Linked DNA regions of Homo sapiens. The protein of the gene in region 1 purifies or fractionates together with the protein of each later gene. This does not show direct contact. Each region holds a gene or a part of one and is shown in the gene's direction. Other genes may lie near its edges.

Region 1 (3,816 bases):
CAGACTCCTAGCTTACACCCACCCAGGAGCCCTGCCCAGTGGGGAAATAGAGCTAAGGGAGTGCAGTATATCTGGCGGAAGACAAGAGGAACTTGAGGATAAAAAGGACTCCTTGGGGAGGGAAATTGACACTCAGTTAATTTAAGTTCAATCAGGGAAATAGCAGATCTTGGTGAAGTCACATGATTAATTCTAAAGGGGTTCCCATGCAGTAGCAGCAGGGTAAGGAGTGGGCAATGTTGGGGGACACTGTGGTTCTGTGAGTGCCAAGCTGACATAATAGGGGATGGGATGGGCCACTTCTTCAAGGAGTTCTGAAAATGTGCTGGGAAACCAGGCGCCAAGGAAGGAGCCTGGTGGGGCTGGGAATGGGGTGCAGGCATTGTTCTGGGCCTCCTTAGAGGAGAATGTTAGAGGGCTTCTCCACTGGGTCAGTTGTAGCAAAGACTATTTTTCAAACCCTGATGGTTTGCTAATTTATTTATTCTGGGAGAGGTGTGGGAGCTTTTATGAGAGCTGGATCCTCATTCACCAGATAGAATGTGGCTAGAAAGGGGCTGAGACCCACACCCACGCTATGGAAAAAGGGGTGTGGGGCTGGGCATCCATTTGTCTTTACCTCAAAGAACTTAAATTGGGAGGGGCTAGGGAAGGAAATTCCCTGATATTTAGACTTATATTTGAAGTAGACTGCTATTTCAAAATGTTGATATTACAACTCTGAAGTTTTTGTTTTAAAGAAAGACAAAATCTTCAATCTTGACCTAGAAGTTAGACGGTGTTTCATGGCAGCCTGTATAATTCAGAAACAATACTTTAAAAATTAAATATAGTGACCATTTCATTATCTTGTAATTAAAACATAATCTGTTTCACAATTTGAACTTTGCATGAGTTGCCTAATGCACCCTTACAGTCATATTGATGAATACTTTGAAGTTGAGTTTGCTTCTTTTAAGACATAGAGACAAAGATGAAAAGCATTACACCCCAGCCCCTTTCTCCCGTGAGACCAGCAGGAAGGTAGCATATTTATAATCAGATCCTGCCTCCTATAGCCAGGGTGGGCTTTGCTTCAGCTTCTCAGCCACTGGGCTGGGTTAGTTCTGTGAAGTGATGAATCACCCAGCTTGGACGTTCTCTTTGCTACTACATTTTAAAATTGTGAGCCTTTGACAAAGTCAATTATAATCTTGTGAATCCTGGTAGGAATTAAAAAAACCATTTTTTGTTATTTTTGTGTGGGCTATGGTGAAGAAATGACCGTAAGTGAAAAATATTTTTATTTTATATGAATATATTACTAACATCATATTATCAAATTTACTTTTCAACTCTTTAATGCCATTTATCCTACAGAAAGACAGATTCTGACTTCTTCCTGTTTGAAAACCAACACATGCTCTTTGATTTACTTTAATTCAATTAAATTAGAAAAACCCTCTGTGATTGTCAGTAAACAGATGAAAAATGTTGTAAAAACATGATTAACCCTTATGAGTGTATATGAAAATAGGCTGAATTTTAAAATTTAAGAAGGAGACAAACACCACTTAGATATTTAGAATGCTTGCATTTTGTGCTTCAAGAACCTACTGGCTTGTTTTGACGGTCTCTGGTTTGTTGTTAAAAGCTGAGATGGGGCCGGGCGCATGGCTCACGCCTATAATCCCTGTACTTTGGAAGGCAGAGGTGGGCAGATCACTTGAGGTCAAGAGTTTGAGATCAGTCTGGCCAACATGGTAAAACCCCGTCTCTACTAAAAATACAAAAATTAGCTGGCTGTGATGGCGCACGCCTGTAATCCCAGCTATTTGGGAAGCTGAGGTGGGAGGATCGCTTGAACCCGGGAGGCAGAGTTTGCAGTGAGCTGAGATCGTGCCACTGCACTCCAGTCTGGGCAATAGAGTAAGACCATCTCAAAAAAAAATTGCTGAAATGGGAGGACATTGTGGGCTATTTGTAAAGGCATCTCTCCTCCCAGGGCACCCCAGGCATAGACAGGCTGACAGGGAATCAGAAAGACAAGGGAGAGCTCTGTGTGTTTTGAACATTGATTTTGAAAGTATGAGACACATCCTAGTAGTTTCATGTAGGTATGACACCTCAGATAAATCCAAGGCTTTCAAACTCCTGGCTCCGTTGAAACCATCTTGAGGCTATTTCTTTTTGCTCCTCTTGGCTTGCTGTGGTTAAAACAGAGGTGCTCCCCTGGGCTTCCCTCATTAACCAACACGCTGCGGTGGATATAAAGTTTAGAATATTCGTGGGCCCACATTTGGTTCCTAAGACTCCTGGGCAAGGAATGTCAGCTTCCTTTATTGCTTTAAATTCCCTCTATCTGCTCCATGTGCCCACCTCATGGCTGGCAGGAGCTTCCAGCTGGGTGGGGTGTTTTGAAGACCCTGTCCTCCTGAGGGTCTCACAGCCATCCTGGGGTCGTTAGTGGTGACTGGGCAGGGATTGGGTGCTGGTTGTCTGTGGTGGTGTTTCTGCTGTCTGTCCCTTGGCATGGGCCAGACCCTCTGTTCTGGCTGGACACAGACTGGCCTTTCACAGTGGCTGGCCTTCTGACCGCGGACGCTGCTGCCTGTACAGAGTGCCTTGTGTTACTTAAATGCCCCAGCGGTCCCTGGCTCTGTTTCTGTGTATGAGCAGGGCCTGGGCAGTACCCCTCCTGGAAAATCCTTCTTTCCTCCCCAGTCTGGCCACCTCCGTCTTGCCAATTCCAAGCTCTTTTTTTTTTTTTCCTCAGGGACCGCCTAGCTTTATCACCCCATTAGCCTAAGGTTTTGAAAACCAAGGTCTATACTTTCTTCCTTAGGGGTGGAAAGCCAGAACAAATAGGTCGCCTGTGGGAAGAGAAAATAACTCTTACTCTGACCCCTCTACCCCCTCAGCTTTGTGTAGCAGAAAGAACAAGTCACAATTCATATCCTGGCCTTCAGCCACACTTATTATGAGAAGGAATAAAAACAGTTTTAAACATTTTATTCTGAAATAACTATAGACTCACAGGAAGTTTCAAAAATAAGAGTCTTGTGTGCCCTTCACCCAACTTCCCCAAATGGTGACATCTCATCTAGCCTTAATGAAACCAGAAATGCAATGCATTGGTGCATTTCTGTTAACTAGATGACAAACCATATCAAGTTTTTACCTTTTTTTTAAAAAAACCTGCCTTCATTTGTGTGTTAAAAACAATTGTCATGTGTGCAGTAAAAACACAAAACGAGCAAAAAACCTCTCTCCAGCACCTGGCAATGTTCAGTTGAGTGATAAACCAGGTAAATGCCTAAGTCAGGGACAGGCTTATCTGATCTCTGCTATGAAACATGCATACTCAATGCACACTTGTAGGCACTCATACAATTCCATTTAATGGAGAGGAATATTTACCTAATGTTTGACATTGATTAAAAAAATCAACAGAAATGGAAACAAAAACTATTATCTTCTTTAATGATATGGACTTCCCCTGACCACCTCCTCAACTTCCAGGGTTCTTAAAGACAAGATGCCAAGATGTAAATTCTGTCCTTGATAAAGGATTGAGGCAGGAGGACTTGGGAGGTCAGGAGGGTGAACACCGAAAAGACCATGACTTCATGCCTAGGAAGATCTTACCTGTAACTTTAGAAAATAGGGGACCTCATGGGGCCTGGCCTGATAACCCAGGGGAGGGTGAGGGGCTAAGGAACCGGCGCCTCAGGAGTAAAGGAGGAAAACAGAAAGTCAGCTCAGCTTCTGGGCATTCTCTAAGAAATGAACTGCAGACTGGGACATCATGAGAGCTTTAGAAAATGCTGGAAACAT
Region 2 (3,816 bases), on another chromosome or scaffold:
GCACGGTGGCTCACCCCTGTAATCCCAGCCCTTTGGGAGGCCAAGGAGGGTGAATCATGAGGTTAAGAGATCGAGACCATCTTGGCCAACATGGTGAAACCCCGTCTCTACTAAAAATAAAAAAATTGCCAGGCGCGGTGGCTCACCCCTGTACTCCCAGCACTTTGGGAAGCCACGGCGGGAGGATCACCTAAGGTCGGAAGTTCTAGACCAGCCTGGCCAACATGGTGAAATTCTGCCGGTACTAAAAATAAAAAAATTAGCCAGGCGTGGTGTTGCGCGCCTATAATCTCACCTCCTCAGGAGGCTGAGGCAGGAGAATCACTTGAACCCGGGAGGCGGAAGTTGCAGTGAGTCGAGATCATACCACTGTACTCCAGCCTGGGCAACAGTGCAAGACTCTGTCTCAAAAAAAAAAAAAAATTATCCAGGCATGGTGGCCCATGCCTGTAATTCCAGCTCCTTGGGAGGCTGAAGCAGGAGACTCACTTGAACCCGGGAGATGGAGGTTTCGGTGAGCCAAGAATGCTCCATTGCAGTCCATCCTGGGTGACGAGAGTGAAACTCCGTCTCAAAAAAAAAAACAACAGTATTTACTGTCTAGGCACGGTGGCTAAAGCCTGTAAGGTCTTTGGAAGGCCAACGTGGGTTGGAGGATGGCTTGAGCCTAGAACTTTGAGACCAGCCTGGGCAACATAACGAGACCCCATCTCTTTTTTTTTTTTTTTTTTTGGGAGACGGAGTCTTGCTCTGTCACCCAGGCTGGAGTGCAGTGGTGCAGTCTCCAATCTCAGCTCATTGCAACCTCTGCCTCCCAGGTTCAAGTGATTCTCCTGCCTCAGCCTCCTGAGTAGCTGGGATTACAGGCATGCACCACCACGCTCGGCTAATTTTTGTATTTTTAGTAGAGACAGGGTTTCAGCATGTTGGCCAGGCTGGTTTCGAACTCCTTACCTCAAGTAATCCTCCCGCCTCAGCCTCCCAAAGTGCTTTGATTACAGGCATGAGCCACTGTGCCCGGCCAAGTATTTATAATTTTCACTGAATTTCACAGAAGAAAAAGGAAAGAAAAACTGAAAGCCAAGCATGGTGGCCTGTGGTTCCAGCTACTTGGGGGAGGCTGAGGCAGGAGGATTGCTTGGGCCCAGGAGGTTGAGGCTTCAGTGAGCTGTGACTACAGTTGTGCCCCACCATAACTGGCTATTTTTTTCTATTTTTTTGTAGAGGCAGGGTTTCACCATGTTGCCCAGGCTGGTCTTGAACTCCTAGGTTCAAGTGATCTGCCCATCTCGGCCTTCCAAAGTGCTGGCATTATAGGCATGAGCCACTGCTCCTGGCCAAAACTTTTTTTGAGGTACAAAAAGACTCAAAGTTTGAAATCTGTTTTGAGGATTCGTCTTCAAGAGAAAGTCATAGGGAAAATGTTTTCTGTCAAGAAAATGTTCGTTAAAGGAAACAGATCCCTTTTAGGGCATGAACAAACTTGTCTAGTTCATAACATTTTAAAGCACTTTCTTGTGTCCTCTCATGTGATGCCAACTGTAGTGACCTTGTGGGGTGGGCTGGGAAGGACACAGGAGCTCCATTTCACAGATGGGAAACTAGTGGCTCGGAAAGCCCAAGTGATCTGCTGAGGGTCACACAGTGTGGGGCAAAGTCAGGACAGTCCGGTCTTTTTATATTCAAGTCTCTAGTTGTTTCCCCCTGGGAGACATTGCCTTCTTTCTAGAGATAATTAGCCTCATAATATCTGTAGATAAGTCCTTAGAATTTTCCAATCTCTTTTTAATCCTTTTTTTGTTTTCTTTTTCTTGAGAGTCTTGCTCTGTCACCAGGCTGGAGTTCAGTGGCACGATCTCGACCCACTGTAACCTCTGCCTCACAGGTTCAAGCGATTCCCCTGCCTCATCCTCCTGAATAGCTGGGACTACAGATGCGCGCCACCACGCCCAGCTAATTTTTGTATTTTTAGTAAAGATGGGGTTTCACCATGTTGGCCATGATGGTCTCTATCTTTTGACCTCATGATCCGCCCGCCTCTGCCTCCCAATGCTGGGATTACAGGTGTGAACCACTGCGCCAGGCCCAATGTTTTTTTTTGTTTTTTTTTTTTTTGAGACGGTGTCTCACTCTTGTTGCCCAGGCTGGAGTGCAGTGGCGCGATCTCAGCTCACTGCAACCTCCGCCTCCCGGGTTCAAGTGATTCTTCTGCCTCAGCCTCCCGAGTAGCTGGGATTACAGGCATGCGCCATCATGCCCAGCTAATTTTCTTTTTTTCTTTTTTTGAGACGGAGTCTTGCTCTGTCGCCCAGGCTGGAGTGCAGTGGCGCAATCTCGCATGCCCAGCTAATTTTCTATTTCTATTTTTCTAACCCCATAAAGATGGGGTTTCTATGTTGGTCAGGCTGGTCTCAAACTTCTGACCTCAGGTGGTCCGCCCACCTTGGCCTCCCAAAGTGCTGGGATTACAGGCTTGAGCCACTGCGCCTGGCTTTTTTTTTTTTTTTTTTTTTTGAGATAGAGTCTTTGCTCTGTCGCCAGGCTGGAGTGCAGTGGTGCCATCTCTGTTCACTGCAACCTCTGCCTCCCGGGTTCAGGTGATTCTCCTGCCTCAGCCTCCCGAGTAGCTGGGACTACAGGCGTGCACTGCCATACCCGGCTAATTTTTTGTATTTGAGTAGAGACAGGGTTTCACCATGTTGCCCAGGATGGTCTCAATCCCTTGACCTTGTGATCTGCCCACCTCGGCCTCCCAAAGTGCTGGGTTTACAGGCATGAGCCACAGTGCCCAGTTTTTTTTTTTTTTTGAGACAGAGTCTCACTTTGTTGCCCAGACTTGAGATCAGTGATGTGAACATGCCTCACTGCAGCCTCGACCTCCTAGGCTCAAGTGATCCTCCTGCCTCAGCCTCCCTAGTAGCTGGCACTACAGACACAGGTCACCATGCCCAGCTAATTTTTTTTTTTTTTTTGAGATGGCATCTTGCTCTGTTGCCCAGGCTGGAGTGCAATGGCGTGATCTCGGCTCACTGCAACCTCCGCCTCCCGGGTTCAAGCGATTCTCCTGCCTCAGCCTCCCGAGTAGCTGGGACTACAGGTGCCTGCCACCACGCCCAGCTAATTTTTCTATTTTTAGTGGAGACGGGGTTTCACCATGTTGGCCAGGATGGTCTCGATCTCTTGACCTTGTGATCTGCCTGCCTTGGCCTCCCAAAGTGCTGGGATTACAGGCGTGAGCCACCGCGCCCGGCCGAGACGGGGTTTTGCTCTTGTTGCCCAGGCTGGAATGCAGTGGTGCCATCTCGGCTCACCGCAACCTCCACCTCCTGGGTTCAAGCAATTCTCCTGCCTCAGCCTCCCGAGTAGTTGGGATTATAGGCATGTGCCACCATGCCCGGCTCATTTTGTATTTTTAGTAGAGATGGGATTTCTCCATGTTGGTCAGGCTGGTCTTGAACTCCCGACTTCTGGTGATCTGCCCGCCTCGACCTGCTGAAGTGCTGGGATTATGGGCATGAGCCACTGTGCAGAAAAAATTTTTAATAGTATTTTACCACCAGGGACAGGGACTCATGCCTGTAATCTCAGTACTTTGGGAGGCTAAGGCGGGAGGATCACTTTAACCTAAGAGTTCAAGGCTGCTGTGAGCTGTAAGTGTGCCACTGTACTCTAGCCTGTGTGACAGAGCAAGACCCTTTCTCTAAAGTACATACACACACACATACATACATACAGGACTTGGCCTTTCAGCTCCTATATTTGACTGAAGTTCTTCCACTATGCACTTATTGTCAGTTCTTGAGATGATGCTCTGGA

What was found.
Region 2: the proteins of SH3BGR (region 1) and TRNAU1AP fractionate together in Homo sapiens (co-fractionation; one large-scale study listed by BioGRID). This does not show direct contact.

The regions. Positions count from the first base shown.
Region 1 is NC_000021.9:39,500,250-39,504,065, forward strand, and holds part of SH3BGR (SH3 domain-binding glutamic acid-rich protein), read left to right. Parts: intron 1-3,816.
Region 2 is NC_000001.11:28,573,365-28,577,180, forward strand, and holds part of TRNAU1AP (tRNA selenocysteine 1-associated protein 1), read left to right. Parts: intron 1-3,816. UniProt on the Homo sapiens protein: Involved in the early steps of selenocysteine biosynthesis and tRNA(Sec) charging to the later steps resulting in the cotranslational incorporation of selenocysteine into selenoproteins. Stabilizes the SECISBP2, EEFSEC and tRNA(Sec) complex.